2 linked regions of the Homo sapiens genome follow. The protein of the gene in region 1 interacts with the protein of each later gene in a biochemical or structural test. Each region holds a gene or a part of one and is shown on either strand. Other genes may lie near its edges. The genes, in order: HEYL and HAND1.

The links.
Region 2: the proteins of HEYL (region 1) and HAND1 form a complex in vitro, tested with the Homo sapiens proteins (one study listed by BioGRID).

What each region holds. Positions count from the first base shown.
Region 1 is NC_000001.11:39,634,847-39,645,642, forward strand, and holds the start of HEYL (hairy/enhancer-of-split related with YRPW motif-like protein), read right to left. Parts: upstream 4,798-10,796; 5' UTR 4,780-4,797; coding exon 4,700-4,779; intron 1-4,699. UniProt on the Homo sapiens protein: Downstream effector of Notch signaling which may be required for cardiovascular development. Transcriptional repressor which binds preferentially to the canonical E box sequence 5'-CACGTG-3'.
Region 2 is NC_000005.10:154,475,228-154,486,351, forward strand, and holds the start of HAND1 (heart- and neural crest derivatives-expressed protein 1), read right to left. Parts: upstream 3,001-11,124; 5' UTR 2,782-3,000; coding exon 2,239-2,781; intron 684-2,238; coding exon 579-683; 3' UTR 1-578. UniProt on the Homo sapiens protein: Transcription factor that plays an essential role in both trophoblast giant cell differentiation and in cardiac morphogenesis. Binds the DNA sequence 5'-NRTCTG-3' (non-canonical E-box). Acts as a transcriptional repressor of SOX15.

The sequences.
Region 1 (10,796 bases):
AGCAAGGGCTTGGAATACAGCAGAACTCATGGTAGAGCTTTCTTCTCTCACCCATGTCTTTGGCATCACTGGGGAACAGAGATGTAAGCACCATAAAATCTATGGCCTAGGACTTTGTGGAATGGGGGCGTATATGACTTAACACAAGGGTCCCAGCCCAAGGGTCCCAACCCTTTTGGCATTTGAATTTGGATCATTTTCATCAACTGCTCAGAGAAGGTTGCAGAAGAGACCAGATAGCATTTGTCAAATCCTACTGCTATGTCTCTGGCTTTGTCCAGACACATCTGGAAAAGGATATCTCCCACCCAAACATCTGGACAAGCCGACCTGGTAAGAGGTCTATAATAGCTCCTGGGAGGGAGGACCCAGCAAGCTAGGTCCAGGGCTTGTAAGGCCAGATCTTGAGATCTATGGGGCAGCTTGTTTACAAAGCCTCACTGGTTCACTGGGGACAAACCCCAAGAGCCAAGACACACTAAGAAACACGGCCTTTGTTCCCCCCAGCTTGATAAAGCGTCTTTCCGGGTATTAGGTTAGCCTTGCACACGTCACTGCCTCTCAGCCTGATCCCTCCGCTGGGACCATCTGTTGGAGGCTGACGCACCCATTTCAGGGCAAAGCAGTGCTGCCATTCCTTTTTCCAATCTCCTGGTCAGCTTGTCCCTGTCGTATTATTTCCCCCCTTCTCCTCTTCCCATATCTCAGAGGCAAACCTCACATTACAGTTTTCTTGGCAACATTATATGTCTTTCCCTCCTTTGAGCCTTACAAAAGCCCATATTACAGATGAGGTTGCTGAGCTTCAGGGAGCTAAAGCAGGTTGCCCAGCCTACCCAGCTGCTAAGGAGCAAAGCCAGCAGGGAATCCGCATCTTCTGGCTCCGCTTCAGCATTTTTTCCCTTCTAATTCCTACTTCCTGTCTGTCTGAATAGCCCTCCGGTCCCCTTATTTTTAAAGTTCCCAAGAGCCCAGCCAGAGCTCCCTTCCAGCCCGCGATCTGGCCCTGACAGTGGGATGAGGTGTGGGATTCTCTTGTCTGAGAATCTGAAAATGACACAGATTTTCATGGACCCAGAGAAGATATGTTGACCATCAAGATCTGCTCCATAGGCCTCTAGTGGCTCCTAGCCAGAATTCTGGGGCGGTCTCTTATGGGGGGAAGCTTTCCAGGTGGTCCTGACCACCCTCAGTGCTGACTTCCCCTGGGAACTCCCCCGTGGAACCCTTGCAGATGACCCTAATCATTTTGTGTCAGCCAAAGGCAGAATCACAATGTCCCAAATGAAGGAATCTCAGAGAGAACTGAGTCCATTTGTAAAATAAGGAAACTCAGAGGGGAAGGGATCTTCCCCAGGCCACACAGCAAATTAGAGGAAAATCGGAACTACAGCCAGGTCTACTCTAGTAGCTTTTTTTTTTTTTTCTTTTCTTTTTTGAGACAGAGTCTTACTCTGTCACCCAGGCTGGAGTGCAGTGGCACAATCTCAGCTCACTGCAACCTCCGCCTCCCAGGTTCAAGTGATTCTCCTGTCTCAGCCTTCCAAGTAACTGGGACTACAGGCACGTGTCACCATGCCCAGCTAATTTTTTGTATTTTTAGTAGAGATGGGGTTTCACCATATTAGCCAGGATGGTCTCGATCTCTTGACCTCGTGATCCACCCACCTCAGCCTCCCAAAGTGCTGGGATTACAGGCGTGAGCCACCGTGCCCGGCCTCTAGTGGCTTTTAATCTGGGGCTTTTGCCAGTGCACCCCATATATACATCATCCCGTCATGTAGATCTCAGAGCCAGTGCTTTTTGTTCTATACTGCACTTCCACATCCATTTGTCTAATTTATTGCACAATAGCACTGTAAGTGAAGTATTTTTTGGGCCATTTCACATTTAGGAAAAATAATCATTTTACAGGTGGAGTGACAGAGACACTGGAGTTAAGAATCACTCCAGTAAGTCCAGTCTTCACACTTCCGGTCTTTTCATTAGACCATGCTGTCTCATAAATATGTTGCCCCCCAACTGAATGGTGACCGCTTTGACAGCAACGTTTATTGGAAGTTACTTTGTGCCAAAGCAGGGAGCTATGTAACTTTATGTATGTTACTTCATCAAACCTTATCCTGCGAGGCAGGAGTGCTAATGTATTCCCATTTTGAACGCGAGAAAACTGAGGTTCAGAAAGGGGTAAAAGTCACTGGCCAAAGTTAATGGTGGTAAAATTCAAACTCAGGTCTATCTGACTCCAAGACCACCACCTTATATTGTGCAGGAACAGGACCCTGATCCAGTGTCTGACATGTGGCAGGTGCTCATTAGATGTTTGCAGAGGGAGAGGAGAGGCTGTACTCTCAGTTTGGACTCATCCTGCGTCATGGGGCCAGGTTGAGATGAGAGCTCTGTGGGTGAGTTTCACAGATGTGGCAGGACTGCCACCAGGCAGATGCCACAGTGATGGTGGAACACACCCTGCTCTTTACTCTCACGTTTCTGAGTGTGGGGGTTTTGCGCCCTGCCCCTGACCCCGAGAGGCTGGCTGCCTCCGTCCTGCGGCCTTTGTCAGTGTTTATCTGCTTTCTTTGTACATGAAGCTCTTCTTCCCTGAGAGTTCCCTGAGGGCAGAGGCTGAGCAGGATACATCTGGGCCCCCTATGCCCAGCCCAGGGTCTGGGCCACAGCAGGCATCGTTCAGTGCTCCCTGAATTGAAGCATTGATGTCTGCTGGGGGAAGGGCCCTTTGGTGAGTGCTACAAAGGGGCATCTATAAGTCAGCCTCTGCCAGATGTCCAGCTGCTTTCTCTCCTCAGAGGGGTCTGCTCCTCTAAGAACAGTGTCTAAAAATGGGCTCTGTATATATAGGAAATGCTGTATGTATAGGAAAAAACTGCCCACTGATCCTTTATGCCTCATGTAAGCAGTTGCCCAGATGCTACTATCTTCAAGAAGCCCTCCTTGCCATCTTTGATTAAGAGTGACCTCTCTTTGCTTAAGTGCCCTCACAGCCCACAGTCTGTCTCCTTTCCATCCTGTCCATGGTGTTTTTATGACCTGGCAGGTCACTGACTGGGCTGCAAACTTGTGGAGGACAGAAGCCAGCTCTGATCAACCTAGTTCTCTGGCATCAATTTTGTGCCTCTGATCTATGAAGACCCAATGCCATTGAATTTGAGACCCCGCTCCACCACCACCACGTGGTGCTGTGCCCTTTCCTGGCCCTTAACAGGCACAGGCTAAGATAACTGCTTTTCTAAATAGCAGTTTCTGCTAAACAATTAAGAAAGGCTAATACGTTGCATAGCGAGTTGTGTTATACTCCCTAAAAACAAATGTACAGGCTGCAAGAGGAATATCTATTATGGCATTTTCCTGGGATTTGAGACTGAGGCAGGATCCTTGGATCTCAGAAAACTGGAGAGCACTAAAATTACAAAATGTCCTCAAAAACATCCCTAAGAATTAACTGGGCCTGGCTCACTGGCTTATGTCTGTAATCCCAACACTTTGGGAGGCCAAGGCAGGAGGATCACTTAAGCCCAGGAGATCAAGGTTGCCATGAGCTATGATCATGCCACTGCACTCCAGCATGGGCAACAGAGTGAGACCATGTCAAAAAGAAAGAAAGAAAGAATTAACTGAATTCCCCTCCAATTCTGTTCTAGAGAGTCAAGTCTAGATGAGCCAAGAGAGATGAAGTATATCCCTTTCTTTTCCACTGCTGTCTTTGTTTTACTGATGGGGAAACTGATGACAGACTCTGTCAGGGAAACCAATGGCCCAAGACCACATAGTGAGTTGGTGGCAGATTTGGGGCTGGGACCCAGGTCTGCAGACTCCCAGTCAGCCCTGCAGCTCTTTCAGGGTGCTGGGAATCACATGGTGTGTACCTAGGCATGTGCTGTGCTAAGCCCTTGACATACTTTGCCTCATTTGGTTTTCCCAATATTTCCATGAAGTTGGTTCTATTATTCATGCTCATTTAACAGATAAGGAAACTGAAGCTTAGACAGTTTACAGAACTGCGAGGTAGCAGAACTATACAAGCGCAGTTTGTTCGACAGGTTTGAAGCAGGTCAGACTATCTACCAGGAGCTGAAAGACACTGGCAGTATGGGGGCACGATAGGAGGAACATTGGAATTAGAGTCTAGGCCCTTGCAAGTCGCTTATTATTTTCTTCAATACTAAGTCCCTAAATCCAAACTCCAATTTGCTCAAAGGAGGACAAATTTTCTTCTTCCTGAAATAATTTGTGGACTACATGAAAACTGCATCCAAACTAGGGTAAAATTGGGAAAGGATGGGGTTACTCTGCATCGTCAGCAGATTCCAGACAGGGGCCAGAGTACCATCAGTCTATGAGAGTTTTCTAAGATCTCCAGGGAAAACCTGCCAATGGCCTCCCCTAGGCCACTTCAACAGATAGATGATAACCCACTAGCCACCTGATCCCCCGAGCTGAACTCTCCCTCCCTGCCAGCATCCCCAGCCCTGCACGACCGAGAGCGCGCAGGATCCAGGCACTCGTGCGTGTAACGGCACGGCCCGCACACGCCCCCTACGCCGACACCTGTGGCCCCCGCGCTCACCTGCCTCTGCCCAGGCGGTGCTGGAGGGCTGGCCCGCCTGCTCGGCGAGCCCGTCGGGCCGACCCCCACCCCGCTCGCCCTCCGCCTGCTCGGTCCCCGCATCCCGGCCCTTACCTCAGCTGGCCCTCTTGGCCCACGTCGATGGGTCCGTCGGACTCCCCGTCGGAGCCGCTCGGCTCCTTGGGTCGCTTCATGGCGAACGCAGGCTGCCTGGTCTCAGCCCCGCGGCTAAGGCTCCCAGTCGGGAAGTCAGGCCCCGCCCCGGCCCCGCCCCGGCCCCGCCTCGGGGGCGCCGCCACCGCCCTTTCCCAGGGCCCTTTCCTGCGCCGCAGCTCCGGGCGCCCAGGCGCCCCCTCGCCCCCGCGGTGACGCGCCGCCGAGCCGTGGGAAGGCCCTAGGCGGTCGCCGCCTTCATCGACGGCTGGGAGGTCCGGCTCTGCTCCGCTGTCTCGGCTGCCGCGCGCTGGGTGGCCTTGGGCAGGTGCCCTGGGAGGCCCCGCGGGGAAGCCAGGAGTCCCCGTCTGTCCCTGGGTCGCCTGGGCGCTGCTGGCCTGTAGAGGCGCCGCTTCGATGCCCGGGATTCCGCAAGGGTCAACCCTGCGCGCTCCTGCCTCCTGGTGTTCTGGAGGCAGCAGACACATCAAGTTTGTCGAAGTTAGTCGTGGTGGTTGTGGCCTGATCCTCAGCAAGAATTCCCCAGCAGCAACTCCATAGGGGCCCAAAGCAAGTGGAATAGTGTGGTGGGGGCAAGGGGAAGACACTTACACTTCTGAGAGGTGGCAGTCACCCCCAAAAGGGACGGCTGAAGTTGTGGCCACCGCATCTGAGAAAGCTGGGCTCTGGCCGAGGTCCCTAAAGGCCTGGCGTGGTGGCAGTGGTGGGTTGTCCCTGGGAATCAGTTCCCAGTTCACCAGAGGTCGAGTTGTCCTGGGCGGCCAGGAGGCCAGGAAAGGGCTCCTTCTAGACGCTATGGCAGGGCCTCAAAGTGGGAGAAGGAGAGGAAAAGGGAAGATACCTTCCAGCCTCTCTTCCTGGGGCCTCTGCTTCTGGCAACCCATCAAACTGTTCACTCAGGGAGGGCTCTAGCTGCCCTGTCCTTAGGGGGACTTGTGGGAAGTTCTCAGATTCACCGGTCATCCTCAGGCGCCCAGTACCTCAGAGAAGCTCCTAAGGCTCCAAAGGAAGCTGCATGAGAGCATCCTGGAGCTGGACTTCTTGGGCAGGGAAGAGGAGATAGAGGAGGTCTTGGTGTGCTGGGTTAGATATGAGAGGTCTTTTCCTTTTTACCCGCCACCAGGTCAGGACCTGAGGGAAGCCACCCCTTCAAGTGGGAGAATCGGGTTGGTCATCTGAGAATAACTGTGCTTCCATCCCCACAGCAAGGCCTGCTTGCTGGGGGACACTTGATTACTTGATGGGAAAGAATGTTCCTGTGCCCCCGTCCACACACATCCACAGACACAACCATTTGGCCAGGTATGCAAACACATACACACGGACAGACTTACAAATATATACTGGTAGGCGCAACTGTCGTGAGCAATCAGTACCAGGAAGCCCTGGTGGTCGCCCCAGCCACAACTATGGACTCTCATTCCAAATGCCCTCAGCACTCACATCACTTCTGTGGGCACATGCCAGTCAGTGGAAACCTCAACTAACAGAGAAGTTGCACAATGTGTTATGCATTCCCTGGAAAGGCGGAAGTCAAGGAAGCCTCCCAGATAGCTGCCCTGTGTAATTGGCTGAGATAGCAAAGATTGGAAGAGGAGCAGATTTGCAGGGGAAGGTCAAGGGCCCCGTGATGGACGTTTCATGTGAGATGTCTTGGATCATCAAAATACAGTGCACAGTTAAATAGAGGGTATGGAGTTCAGAACAGAGGTCTCAGCTGGATATTAAATTTGGACGTCATTAGGTAATTGATGGCATTTAAAGCTATGGGAGCAGATGGGATCATTCAGAAAACGTGGATGGAGACAGAGCAGGGGCCTAGCTAAATACTTAACATTTGGTGAGCCCTTATTATAAAACCTGAAACTATTCTAAGTCTTTTGTAAATATTAACTCATTTAATCCTTGACAACCCTATAAAGTAGTAATATTATAATCCCCACTTTACAAGTGAGAAACAAAGGCTGAGAGGTAGACTAACTCCACCTAAGGCCAACAGGCAATAAATGGAAGGGCTGGAATTCAACAAGGCAGTTCAGTTCCAGAGCCAAAACATTAGGCTTTATTACTTTATACAGTACTCCCCCTTCTTTTAAAAATAAAGACAAGGATTCACTCTGTCACCAGGCTAGAGTGTAGTGGTGCCATCGTAGCTCACTGAAACCTTGAACTCCTTGGCTCAAGTGATCCTCCCACCTCAGCCTCCTGAATAGCTCAGACTACAGGGGCATACCACCATGCTCAGCTAATTAAAAAAACAACATTTTGCCAGGTGTGGTGGCTCACGCCTGTAATCTCAGCACTTTGGGAGGCTGAGGCAGGCGGATCACAAGGTCAGGAGATCGAGACCATCCTGCCTAACACGGTGAAACCCCATCTCTACTAAAAAATACAAAAAATTAGCCAGGCGTGGTGGCAGGCACCTGTAGTCCCACCTACTCGGGAGGCTGAGTCAGGAGAATGGCGTGAACCCGGGAGGCGGAGCTTGCAGTGAGCCAAGATGGCGCCACTGCACTCCAGCCTGGGCGACAGAGTAAGACTCCGTCTCAAAAAAAAAAAAAAAAAAAAAAAAATTTTTTTTGGTAGAGATGAGATCTCACTATGTTGCCCGGGCTGGTCTTCAACTCCTGGGGCCAAGCAATCTTCCCACCTTGGCCTCCCAAAGTGTTAAGATTACAGGAGTAAGCCACTACACCCCGTCAATTATACAGCTCTTAAACATTGTGATATATTATCCAGTACTGAGCCTAGAGCTATGCCATCAATATAATAGCCACGAACCCCCTATGGCTATTAAGTACTTGAAATGTGGCTGGTCTGAATTGCTGTATGTGCAGTGAGTATGAAATACACACCAGAATTTTTTTAAGTGTGAACTATCTCATTGATATTTTTTGTTATGATTACATGTTGCAATGATAATATTGTATAAATATTGGATGAAATAAAATACATTAGTAAAGTTAACTTCCCTTGTTTTATTTTTAGGTTTTTAAAAATGTGACTACTAGAAAATGTTAAACTGCATATTTGGCTCCCATGATATTCCTATTGGATGGTGCTAATCTGGTGCAGGGTTTCTTAACCTCAGGACTACTGGCATTTTGGGTCAGGTCATTCTTTATTGTGTAGGGCTGTTCTGTGGATTGTAGAATGGTAAGCAGCCTCCCTGGCCTCTATCCACTGGATGCCAGTTATACCCGCTCCAGTTGTGACCATCAGAAATATCTCCAGATAAAATACCAAATGTCCCTTGGGGGAGAAATCGCCCCCAGTTGGGAACCGCTAGTCTGGAGAAACTCCAAGATTTAAAGGTTGTAGAAGAGAAAGAGCTGCCAGAGAAGACTGAAAGGGCAGTGGAGGAGAGTGGGGTGTGTGTGGGGGGGTGTGGGCAGGAGCCAAAAGAGTGTTTCAAGGACTTGGTCATGATCCTTTTAAAATGCCAGTCAGATCATGTCACTTCCTGCTCAAAACCATCCACACGCTTCACATCCCATTTGAAATAAAATGCCAACTGCTTACCATGCCCTATACACAGAACAACTGTAATAACCTGGGCACCTTTGAGAGTGAAAGGAGGCAATACTAATAATCATGCCAGGGCAGTTCAGGGCACACTGGAGGTACCATCTCCTAAGCTCAGGCCCCTGCCCATCTCTCCAGCTTCATCCCCAACCACTTTCTGCCTTGTCCACTCACCCACGACAGCCTTCTTGCCATTTGTATTGGGCCATTCTCACATTGCAGGGGCCAGAGCTTAGGATGACAAACATATAGCAACACATATAATGTAATGTCAGTGATATTAATAGATGCTGTGAAATAAGATAAAGTGAGGTGGAGACATAGGGTGACTGGGGGATTGGTGGCTATTTTACTTAGGGGTCAGGAGATCGTCTCTGAGGATGAATCACTTATGCAGAGACCCGAATGGAGAGAGGGAATCTAAGAAGATCTGGGGAAGAGGATTCCAGGCAGAAGGAACAGCAAGTGGAAAGCCCTGAGGTAGGAACAAGCATGGAATATCAATAGAATGGTGATATGGTTTGGATCTGTGTCCCCATCCAAATCTCATGTTGAATTGTAATCCCCAATGTTGGTGGTGGAGCCTGGTGGGAGGTGAGGGAGGTGGATTTTTCATGAATGGTTTAGTCCCATCCCCTTGGTACTGTTCTCATGATAGTGAGTTTTCATGGATCTGGTGGTTTAAAGGTGTGTGGCACCTCCCCTGCTTCCTCTCTTGTTCCTGTTTTTGCCATGTGACGTGCCTGTTCCCCTTTTGCCTTCCACCATGACTGGAAGCTCCCTGAGGCCTCCCCAGAAGCAGATGCTACTGTGCTTCCTGTACAGCCTGCAGAACCGTGAGCCAATTAAACCTCTTTTCTTCATAAGTTACCCTGAAATACAGGGAGGTTAAATAACTTACCCAAGATCACACAGCTACTAAGTGGTAGAAATAGGATTTTAACCAAGCAGTCTGGCGCCAGAATTCATGCTGGTAACCACTGCAACCTGCATTAGAGCTGGGTGGACCAATCAGGAGACTCTTAAAATAGGCCAGGCAATAAGGACTGGATTCGAGTGATACTGGGTTCCTGTCTGGGTGACTGAATGGATGAAGGTGACAAGCACCAAGGGGAAACACTGGAGAAGGGAAGGAGCTCACTATGGCCATGCTGTTTGTGAGACCTAGCGCACACCCAGGAGGAGAACCCAGGGAGAGGTCTGGGCTGGAGGAGAGATTTGGTGGCTGAAGACATGGGATACATGACATATCTGTCCCAAGGAGCTAGTGCAGATCCAGAAGGGAGGAGAACCTAGGCTAGGACCCTGGGAAACAATAGCCAAAGATTCTCTGGGAAGAAGGAGGAGAATCCTGCGAGAATGGAGCACCAGGGACCAAGGCAACCAGGAGCCGAGAAAAGGGGCTTGGTCACCAGTCCAGGGGCTCTAAGAGGAAAGAAGTGTGATCAGGAGGTCACAGATGCCTTGGGATGAATGAACAGAGGCAAGGGAGGCAGAGACAAGGGCAGGATGTCATGGACTGGGAAGTGTCTGGGGTAGAGGGTTGCGGAAGCAGGTTTAAAAAGGGGGCACGTCAGCCAGGCACAGTGGCTCATGCCTGTAATAGCAGCTACTCAGGAGGTTGAGGTGGGAGGATCACCTGAGCCCAGGAGGTCATGGCTACAGTGAGCCTTGATTGCACCAATGCACTCCAACCTGGGCAACAGAGTGAGACCCCATCTCTAGAAAAAAAAAAACAAAAAAGAGGGGCAGGTCAATGAGAGAGGGCACGCCATGCAACTCCAGGGACCAGCAGAGCCTCAGGAAGAATTTGCTCACTGATGGAGAAGGAGTCAGAAGTAAGGAGAAGGGTGAGAGGCCCAGGAGTAGCAGGCAGCCTCAATCCAAAGGGAGGGAGGACGAGACGGGCCCTCTATTCTACCTTCCGCTCCTTTCTGTCTGTCCCAGAGCTGAGCGAGCTGGAGATTTTCAGCGACAGGTTTCAGTTGCAGCAATACTTTCTCTATCACTGAGCCCACACTAGGTCAATCCCGTCTGCTCTTGGGGCTGGTATTCAGATCACTAAACTGATATGGCCTGGGCTCTGAACGGTTGGCTTGCACATAGACTATACACTGGAACAGGATTCCAGAGACCACTGTGGCAGACACTGAGCCTCTAACTGCTGCATGGTGGAGGTATCTGGGGGGTCTCAGAGGAGAGGATGATTGGCACAGAGATGCCCAGGGTGGTGGTTGGTGGTTATTAATTGTGGAATAGTTTATGTCTGTCTGAGGCCTGGGCTGTTATCCCTGTAAAAGCAGGAACCATGTTGGGTTGTTCACTGTGATCTCCCTGATGCCTACCGGCGTCTGGCACAGGTAGGTGTTTGGTAAACATTGGCTGAGTGTCCAGTGATGGGGAGGGGAACTGAGGGGCTCCTGAAGGCCTCCACCTTGTCTGGGAAGGAGGTGCTTCCTTGTTCCTGGAAAAACAGCAGAGACATACAAGGACTTTCCTGGCCCATGGCCCA
Region 2 (11,124 bases), on another chromosome or scaffold:
TGTTTCCCTTGGAACTAAACAGGAAGTGCAGCGACAAAAAGAAAAATAAAATAAAACCACCACGATTCGAAGAACAAAGGGCAGCCTTTCATCTTCCTGCGTCTGGTTCTCTTTCTCAGGCAGAAAAGAATTGATTCCTTATTGCATTTTAATTAGAGAAGACGGCGTCGGGGCGGATCATATGGAGGGACAAGAGAGAAAGAGCCAGATAGGGAAATGGAGATAGGGCTGAGGTTCTAAATTCGCTCCAAAAGGGTGGAAGAGTGCGTCTTTGAGCCCTTGGGTTCGACAGTCCCTCCTTCTTGCATGTTGCCGCCAAGGGCCGCCCTCGGTTGGGCTGGGGGTGGATATATATATATTTCTCTTTCTCTTAATGTATTAAAAAAAATCAAAGGACATTGCACGTGCGATCCAAGTGTGTGGTTGCAGCCGACGACCTGCCGGCGCTCAGCAGAAGCTCCGCGGGATGCGTAGCACCAGTCGCCGGAGCCCAGAGCCTGGCGTTCGCCGCTGCCTTCCTCTCCTCCCGGGGCTTCAGGAGTGGCTGGCCTGGCCAGGTCCTCGGCGCGGGCCTCGGCTCACTGGTTTAACTCCAGCGCCCAGACTTGCTGCGGCCAGCCGGTGCGTCCTTTAATCCTCTTCTCGACTGGGCCCAGGGCAGGAGGAAAACCTTCGTGCTGCTGCTGCCAAAGGACACACAGAAGAAAAGAGGCGGGAGAGACAGGTTTTAATTTTTCTGCTCCGATCGCCCGGCATGGGGTAAGATGAGGAGGAGGGGAAGGTGTCGGGAGCAGTAACTGGGAGTCTTTAAATAAGTGACGGATTTCTGTTTGCGAAATAGGCAAACAGGCTCGTAAATTTGCCTTTATGCGCGGAGTTCCTGGGACCCGGGATGGGCTGGGCAGCTTCGGGAGGTTTGGTAAGGAAAATGTTCTGCGTCTGGTGAAACTGACGCGCGTTGATTTGGCTTTAGGACACCTAAGGGAGATCCCAGGATATTGGAAGGGAGGGGTGGAAATCCACGGTTCTCCCGCTCTCGCTGCACCCCACACACTTCCGCCAGCCTCCCAACCTGGTTTAAACATCAGGGCTTGGATGCAGGCTTGGGGCCCCCTAAGCCGGAGCTGGGAGCCTCAGATACGGAGGTAAAAGAGCGGGGAGTCGAGCTGGCCTAGCGTCCTCCTTCCCGCTCTTTCAGCAGGAACCAAGCGGTGCTACTTGAAGGAGGCGGCGACGCGTGGGGGCCGGGATCCGCCCAATAACAACTTCTTTCGAGGCGCCGCACCTCGAAAGAAGCCGGCCTGCACCATCCCCAGTCCGGGGCAGCCGTTTAGAGACTCGATGCCTATTTATCTTTCCCTCGTCCCTGGATGAGCTTTCGTCAGTTTACCACAGGCCCCCGCAGGTTGGATAAACCAGGTGGGGCGCTTCAGCTGGCTCCACTCCGCTACGGCCTTAAGCCCCCCAACCTAGAGAAACTGATTGGCCAGCCTGAAAACCCAGCGCTCAGAAGCCCCCAGCCCCGGACAGCCAGACCGAGTGCCAGGAAGTGTCACCCTAACCGGAGAGGATCAAGAAGGCCAAGACGAGACTGCGCTCTCCAAAGCTAAAAGAAGTGGCTCTTATTTACATGCAAAGCCACTGAAGTCGTCCTCAGAACCAGTCCATGGGGAGAACCAGAACTGGCCCTGGACTGAGTAGAAGACCCGATCTGTTTTACCTCACCTCCACCCTGGACTCCTCAGATAGGTGCTTTTCCTGCCCCGACCCACTCTGGGCCCTCAGTTTCCCTATTTATACAATGATGGAAGTAGACTAGCCGGTCCAGCAAAGGCCCTTTGAAAACAGGAACCGAGCCCGGGCACATAAATTCAAACTCAAAGTAAAGAACTTTAACACATATTCTTAACCTGGCTTCCAGGAGAGCCCAGGAATGAATCAGGACTTCTCCAAATTGGAAGCAAAACCTGTGGTGTGTGCATTTTTGGAGGGTCCGAGGCTCCAAACAGATTATTCACTCAGTATTACAAACACTCTCCCGTATTACAAATGAATTCTATGACGAATCTGCCTCCCTCCATGCACAGGATCGCACGCTGTGACCAACCATCTCAGAACTCTTCCCAACCTTTCCAAATCGGACACAGGACAACACAGCCTCCTTCGACTACCTGCATGGCCTGAGGCTGCTCACCGCTCCTGCACCCTTGGCTGGAGCATGCAAGCCCCAGGACTCACCAGCTCCCTTTTCCGCTTGCTCTCACGGCCGCCATCCGCCTTCTTGAGTTCAGCCTTGAAGGCCTCGGGATCGCCAGACTGTGCATCCTTGGCCAGCACGTCCATCAGGTAGGCGATGTAGCTGGTGGCTAGGCGCAGAGTCTTGATCTTGGAGAGCTTGGTGTCGGCCGGCACGTTGGGGATGCACTCGCGCAACTCCGCGAATGCGCTGTTAATGCTCTCAGTGCGTCTCCGCTCCTTCTTGGGTCCTGAGCCTTTCCGCCGGCCAAGACGGCCGCCAAGCGCCTCCAGCCGCCCGGGGCTCTGCCCAGGCCTGGCGTCAGGACCATAGGCGGTGGCGGCTGCAGCGGCCGCGGGCGGCGGCCCGCCCGCAGGGAAGTCCGGGGCAGCGTCAGCCGGGCTCAGCAGCCAGCTCTGGAAGTAGGGCCTTTCCTGATGACAGCGCGAGGCCGGACCGAAGAGGAAGGGTTCGTGGAGCATGGGGTGCGCAGGGTGCGGGTGGTGATGGTGGTGATGGTGTGCGTAGCTGCCCACGAGGTTCATGTTGGAGCGGCTACTGGCCTGCGCCGCCAGCCCTATTAACGCCGCTCCATGCGCCCCAGAGACTGCCGGGGGCCACCTGTGGGCTCTGGAGCCACTACTGGGCGCCGGCTTTGGGAGAGTCCGGGCAAGGCTGAAAATGAGACGCGCAGCCCACTGTCTTCTTACCGGTTTCTGCCGCGGGCGAGGTCGCCGAAGCCCAAAGACCTGTTTAACCCTTCTGCGGACTCCCCTGCGGATCTGGCTTATATAAGACCGCGGCTTTGATGTCAACCTCTCCCGGGAGCCAATGGCAGGGGGGCGGGGATAAGGAAAAGGGGGAGTGGCTATCCCAGGTTTTACGCTCAGCCCGCGCCACTCTAGTCCGCCAGCAGGGACTGGGAACCGGCCCCGCCTCTGCCCCTCCCACTCAGCTCCCTGCTCTGCGGGCTTAGGGGGGCGGGCTGCTGGGGGTGTTGAGGGGGCGGGCACGGGGACTACGTACTTGAGGCACAGGACGGCCAACGCCCTGGACTGTTGCTGCCACCCCCTCCCCACGGATCCAAGGAAAGGAATCCAGAATCACCAAGCGAAAAGAAGGCCTACACCTAGAGCCCGCCTTTTGATTTTACAGACAAGGAAACTGAGGCCCAGGGAAAGAAAGGTTCTTGTTTCTAGACTGTCTAGAAGTCTAAATAGGAATTCCAGCAGTTCCCAGTCCCGAGCTCCAACTGCTCTGCTCGGCGTCAGAGCTAGAAGATGAGAGGGCGCTGCTGAAGACAGGATAGGCCGCTAACGTTCTTCCCTAACACCTTCCAGCCCTCCGCCCCCACCCCCACCCCTTAGTCATCGGCCCTTTCTGGAGAGACTGGGAGCCGCTTGTGCACGGGGTCGTTACCAGCCCGCCAATTCTGACCCAGCCTCAGGCAGACGGGCACGCAGCTACTGACCAGCGAAGAAGCCTTTCGGAGGCAGGGGTAGGGGTGGGGCGGGAAGGAGGAGGCGGACTCCAGGCCCACGGGCATCGACGGGTTTGTTCCCGGCTTGAGGGTCTGAGATCCACTCCGGCCTCCCGGGTGCCTGATCCATTCCGAAGGCCAGCCCGGCTGGCGCAGAGACAGTCTGGCGTCCGCCTTGGGCCCGGGGCATCTGGCCAGCAGGTCTCCTCTGGTCTGTCCGCAGGACTCGCACCGAGACCTGGGAGCGCGGCTACGTCGGGCCGCTCTACCCAGATCATCACTCCTTAAGAATCTTTGGTTCTTTAAAGACACCGGCCCCGAAGCTCACACCTCGAGACACCAGCATTCGGCGTTAGACACACGCAGAGGGGACCAAGACTGCACAGCATCCGCGAGGCTCGCACAGGCAAACGCGACGTCCGGCATCTCTCACGCATCAGCGCAGAGGCGCGACTCGGCTGCACGACCCTCCGAGATTTCACCCCGGGGGTAGGGCCATTCCCTGCCAGCCGGACTCTCTCCACTGTGGGCTTTCCCCAGGCTCGCGTTGGAATCTGGGAATCCCGGAGTGGTGACGCTTCAAGCTGGGGACTCTCGGTCTTACCTCCCGCTGTGGTTCCTTTCTTGGCCGATGTCCACCTACCTGGGTCCCTCATTCTCTCAACCTTTCTCAGCTCAACGCCCCCTCCCTCGGTGTGGTAGAGGGAGTGTGCCTCTCTTCAAAGCAAAGTCGAGGGGAGGGGGAAAGGAGAAGTTAATGTGAGTGCTCTTTTTAGAAGGCAAATCATTCACCCATTCATTCAACAATTATTTATTGATGCCTACTATGTGCCTATCATAGTTACTAGTCCAAAGACAGAGGGAGAAAGGCCCATTCTCTCCTTGAACAGATATGGAACGTGAAGCCCAGAGAAGAAGAGCGATTTTCTCGAGGTCCGGTAGGGAGTGGATGAGTGGAATTCCACTCCTGGACAAGAGAGTGAATGAAGGGTGGGGGGTTACATACAGGAGTGACGGAGACAAAAGCCTGGGCCTGCTGGTTCCACCTGTGGGAGCTCAGCAGGGCTGTGGGCCCTGGAGGTGCATGGGGGGGTGGTGCAGGGAGGTCCTGGTTTCCTGCCCGAGGCGGGCTGGAAACCCCCCGCTCTCCCCGGCGCCTGGCGCCAGCAGCGCTGGGGTAGGGCAGAGCGCGGAGCCGGAGGCACGCGGGGAGGGAGCGCTGGGGGCCCGCTGCTGCGGCGGCTCTGCGGGGTCCCAAGCCTCCCTGGCCTGGAGGCATTCTAGAAAGAGCGCAGGTAGAGAGTAATTACGCTGTGGAGAGAAGGACCTCAACACACAATCCTCAACACACGCCCAGTCTTTGTCCTAATCCAAGTACAATCTGCAACAGTGCCTCTCAGAGCGGCACACTAGGCCCTCAGATTATACATTCACAGGTACATGCACAAGGGCTCACAAAACCTTGCCGCCGTACACAAAAGCCCGTATCTTCATAAGACGCCCAAAAGTATGTGTATTCTCACAGTAATACGCACAGCCACGGTACACACAGCATTCATGCATTCCTAGGATTTTACACATTGTCTCTCTGTCACCCACAGGGTACATACTCATCACGCTTCAGATGTGTTACACCTGGGAGCCGCTCCCAATCCTCCATTCAGGCATGCACAGAGACCAAAGTCATATGGTAGAAACACATAAATTCTGAATACTACACAAATGCAGGGTTTCACACATAATCTCATTGCCACAATTTAAACCAGCTTGTATCTTCCTAAGATTCTCCACAATTGTATTCGCAACACAAACTTCCAAAATCCCATCATACATTTTGTATATTCTCAGTGTCACCGCTAAGCCTTCAGTGCACAAGTACACAGTCACAATATCTACTACATATGCACAGGTGCTCACAAATAGAGGTTCTCACATGCTCACACATAACACACATACAAATGTGTGGCCCACGCGCCTGCCCATATGAGTCCTAGTTGCTTTTATGATGTTACACAGATCACTCAAGGTTGTATACATCCCCCATATATCTGGCCTGGTTAGTGTGGTGGGGAATGCATTATCAGTACTGGGTGAGGAGTCCCAGTCCTATGACACCCCTTGAGGGCCCCTGAGACTACCTGGCAGCCCCCCATGGGTCTTAAAGAGCAGGGTGTCTCCAGCTGCCAGTGATGTGGAAAGCACTGTTCCCCAACCTAGAGAAGGTATTCAGTGTCATTTTTCAAGCGGTGCCCCCACCAGAAACTCAGCCCTAAGGGATCTCCTGAGGCTTGGGGCTGGGGCAACCCCCAGCAGGATGACGTCGGGGGAGACTGCAGTACAACTAGGCTCTAGACTGCCTTCTCAGAGACCCCAAAATGCTTTACTGTAGTCCGTGGAGAGCAGCAGAACTCCCGGGATGGTGGGGACCTTGTAAGGTTGTTCTCTATCTCTGCCCAAGCTATATTGTAGGAGGAGGTCTGAGACCTAGGATTTTGGCTAAAATTGCTTTAGGCTGGCAGGCAAGAGATGTGACAGGCAAGAGTCCTGGCTTTCCCTATCTAGCACCTCTTTGTTCCTTTCCAGTCCGAGCCTCAGTTTCCCCAGTTGCAGAAGAAGGGAATAGGATTGATAGTCTGGAATTCTGGAATTCCCAGCTCCTCACTATTGCAGGGACCCTGCCCTGGTTCCTCCTGGGACTTAGTGCTCAGCTCAGGGATCCCTACAGAAGGACTCCGCTTTCCTCTTGCCTACCTCAACAGACCAAGGACTAGAACTCCCAGGGTCCTAGCCCACACTGCCCCTGCAGCCTCCTCTTAACGAACCTTGCTCACCTAAAGAGTGCCTTCAGGGGGGTTGGCCTTCTTAGTATTTTCAAATGCAGGCTTCTCGTTTCTTCCCCCAGTTGTAGTGGTGAGACCCGGCAGGAACTCTTCTTTACCCTGTTTTACAAAGTAGAGGGCTTATGCACATAAAACACATTCCACCTTGCTATGGAATCGGGCCCATCTGAGTTAAAACTGTGCACATCATTCCTCCCTGTGTGAAGCTTCTACACCTCAGTTTTCTCTTCTGTAAATTGGAGGACAATAATAACCTCTGTGGAGGGCTGGCGTAAGAGTAAGCACAAGGCGAGGCTCTTAGCACAGTGACAGTAAACCTGGATAAATGGTGGCTCTGTTTTTAGGAATATTAATTTCATAGGGGCGGAAATGGAATTACATGCCGCCACATGACTACAAAGCTCTGGATGGGGAGAAGGACCAGGACACTGAATCCTCCTTGCAGGGCTCTGTTCTGACCTGACCTAGCTGCTTCTGACTGCCTTAGGTTCCTTCCCATTCCCTACTGACCCTACACAACCCAGCCATCATAAGACTGGAGATACAGAGACATCGCCAGGTGTAGGAATTATGTTGCCAGAGACCCGAATTCCAGTTCCAGATTCCACCCTCCACCCCCATGTCCCTCCCTAAATGACTTGGTGGGGGGTGCAGTCTTGTCACCTACGGGACTCAGTTCCCCCAACCATAACAGTAGGACAGCTGTACCCGGGCAATGCGAAGGTCCCTCAAGCCTGGACGTTCTGCAGTGGTGGGGTCTCGCTCTTGCCCTAGCCCCTCTCCTACCCTCACCCCTATCCGCGCCCCCCGGACTGGCAGGCCTCTGGAAGCCCAGGCCGCGGCGCCTACCGCAAAACCTTCTCCCGCCGCAGTCCCGTGACCTTGACGCCACGGGCAATCCCCGCACCGGACCCCTTATCTAAATAGGGCAGTAAATCAAGGACCTGTCAGGGCCCGGGTAATTACAGGAACTCCATAAAAAGGACCCGGCCGGCCGCCTGTTTATATTAGCGCGGTGTAAAATATTCTCGCTGTCTTGGGGAATCGCGTCGCGCAGTAACGCGCCATAAATCAGCCCGCGGACCATTTACCCCGCAGCTTGAGCGCGCAAATCCCTTAAACATTTCTCTGCCATGTCTGAAGAGGACCTAGGACTTTCCAATCTGGCCCAGCCTGCTCCCAGGGATGGGGGACAGTCGGGGCAGGGAAGAGATAGGCACGGAGTAGATTGCTCCTGGGAGCTCCAAGGTTCTGTTTGCAGACGGGAAACTAGCCCAGAGAGGGGAAGGAACTTTCCTAAGGGCACACGGCCGATGAGTGGCAGACGCGCGGCTAAAGCCCAGATCTCCAGAGGGGACCTGGGGTGAACAGCAGCCTCTGTCTCCCCTTATTACCTTCTTTCCTGAGACGAGGGTGGTCAGGCCAGAAAGGGTCCAAGCAGGAAGTGACGTTCTTTACATTTTGGCCAGGAGGTTCTTGCCATTGTGCACAGAATTATGTGTCAATGCTTTTCTGCGCAACGGTAGCCCCTGATTACGGGCAAAACACAGGCCCAGAGGATGGGGAGAGACTTGCCCAAGGGCACACAGATAGAAATCGACGACCCTCCCCTGCTAAAATAATTCATTTTGGTTTATCTCCTCCACGCTCTTTCTTAAAGAAAAACTAGGAGAGAGTGCCTATGCATATATGTGTGTGGCTGTGTGTGTGTACGAGGGGGGGGGGTCATTTGTGCTCATTCTCAGGCCTGTAACAGGCCTCAAAAATACAAAATCTATTTAAGGTAAACCTGCTGCTGCCTATTGTCCAATGAGTAACATAAATCAAGCTTATGGAAAAAGAATATTACATTTTCTAACCTCCCTCTGGGCTAGGACCTGAGGATTCGAGGGAGAATTAAACATGTATGTGTTTCCCCCAACTTTTTCTGTCTTCCTCCCCTCATTCTCTTTCTCTTCCGAAGCCCGTAAATGACAATGTGTTTACATAAGTTTTTATGTCGTCTGAGCTTCGTCCCGGCTCCGTTTCCTCCTCTGTGTATTTTCCGCACAGAGAGATGTCTGCTTCGGGACGCGTTCAACCTAAACAGAACCCGGTCTGATTGGAAAATGTATTTATTTGAAAAATCGTAACTCACGGTTTTGGTGAAAACGGCCCCCAAATTTATGGGATCGCTTGGGGCGCAGCGATTGTAAATCAAAAGGCACTGGACACCTCCCTCCCCCATCCCCGAAGCAGCTCGGTCAGGTTCTCCAGAACACCAGGAGTCCTGTCTCCTCCCGGTCCACCCTGCGGCCCTCCGAGACCCTCCCTTCTCCCATCCCTCGCAGTGGTTAGTTGCACACTAGCAGGCAGGTGGATTTTACTCCGGTTTCTTTTACCCAGTCCCGTTGCTTTCAGGGCAATTTCATTCTGGTCAGCTTCACAGCACTCAGCTCCAGGCCGCCTGTTAACGAAGTTTTGCTGTGCACCAGGCTGTTTTCGGCATATTGGGAGATTTTTTTTGTTCCTCACATGCTGGTTAGTTTCCTGGTGCTCGGTTGCTCCCCGGGTCGGGTCGGGCCACTTGTAGCCAATCCCTAGACCACTGATCATTGCCTGCCGAGCTGTTTCATGCCAAGAGGCTTATCTCGGCTCATTGTCACGAAGGTCATTCTCACTGCCTGACTGTTGCATCCCTGGTCAGGAGAATTTTTTCCTTTCCCAGTCTAATCTGAATTCCACAGCAAGGACTGAATCAACCCACTTTACCTATCTCCTGGGTCCTCCTGCCAGCGAAAGCCAGCTGATTACTGGGGAAAAGCTAGAGCCGGGATGGTGTATCCAAGGACAGATGCTGCTGGCTACATAGGTGGGGAGTCTTCGCCAGGGACACGACCAGCAGAGCTGGACGCAGGGACATTTCATGAGCAAACATTGAGTCTACTTTCTCCTGGAATACAGGACTGAGCCATATCTCTGTCTTAAGGATCATGCGCTTCTCTGGCAGAGTCCCCATGGGGCACAATGCAAGCTGTCCACTCCAGGCTTGTCCATCTAAGCCTTGCTATCTCAGGGACAGGGTCTGGAGATTCATTCAAAACTTCTGTGCTCTTTTCTCCAAAAGAGCATGCAGGAGCCAAGAGGTTCCGAAGTCTGCCGGAGCATAAGTGTTATAGCTAGCAATGGGTCGTGGGGATGATCGGCAGCTGGCTACACTTAAGTTGAAAACACTGGGCTCCTCAACCCTTTCCTTCTGCTCACAGGCTTTCAGAAAGAGTCCGTATGCACGAAACAACTGTATCATTATTAGCCTTATTATTTTAAACGGGGCCAGGCCACATCCATCATCTTTCCCATAATGGTCAATTGTAAACACACTTTAAAAGAGAAAAACAAAAAAGGGATTTAATGTTGACACTGGGAAAATGCTTAGCTCTGGCATTGCTGGGGAATTGGCAGGCTCTCTGGTCCTTTGGGAGAGAAGTTAAGTGCTCTGAGAGTTTTTTTGTTTTGTTTTTTTTGCTTTTTCCATTGAATTTCTAAATCCCTCAGGAGTCTCCTTTGTCTCTTCAGTTTAATGAGGGAAGTCCTTTGTTAAAAAGTCAAGGATGGATAGAAGAGCCTTGGCATCAGAAAGGAGACGGGAGTGGAGTAAGAACACTGCAAACACGGTAAACTGTGCTGATCCTCTTCATTACCATGGTCAATCTTACCAGCACCCTTCTGGATTTCAGCCTCTTTCTGCCTTACTATTTCCACGCTGCAGCTGAGTTTTGCCCTGGAAGGGAGAGGTGTAAAGAGAAGTGAACGACAGAAAAAACAGAAATTAGGGAAAAAAAAAAAGTGGCGATTCATGAATGGTGACTGAAGAAACGGGAGCACACTTTGGTTTTCACTTCATTATCAACTATTAGAGCAAGTTCCCTTCCAGAAAGCCTGGGTTTGAGCACCTCTTCCCAGTGTGAACATTGCTCCCTAGCCACATGGACACCCCCAACATCTCACCCACACACACCAGAGGATACAAGATTGTCCACATTAGCTTCCTAAAACTCACCCAGAGCACGGCTCAAAGAACAAGAAGTCACAGTGGAACCCAGCCTCAAACTCAAACCAACTGTTGGCAGTTATTAAATTCATTTTCATCCATACAAGCAAGGTCCCAAAAAAGTCTACTTAAAAAAAAAAAGTGGCAGGAGAAGAGAGAACAGAAGGGAAAGCCCCAGAAACCAGACCAGAAATTAATGTAATTACCTCTTCTCCCCTGCCATAAATTCCGCAGAGGAAATCAAATCTTTCTGTGCATGTGTATAAAAACCTATCAGTCTATGGAGCTCGCCAAAACCCATTATGTCTCAAACTGGGTGTTCTAATTGAGTGAATCTGAATGTACCAGTCGACCAAGCATCAATGGATCCAGGTTTTTCCAAGGGCGTTTGCCACAGAGCCAGAGAGGATAAACATTGGTTGGAACCACACACTAATCAGCTTGCTTGCCGAAGAGACCCTCTCTGAGCCTGGAGGAGATCTATGGAGCCTGGGTGCTGGCAGATGCATCCTAACATTTTGCGTCAGATTGTAATGGA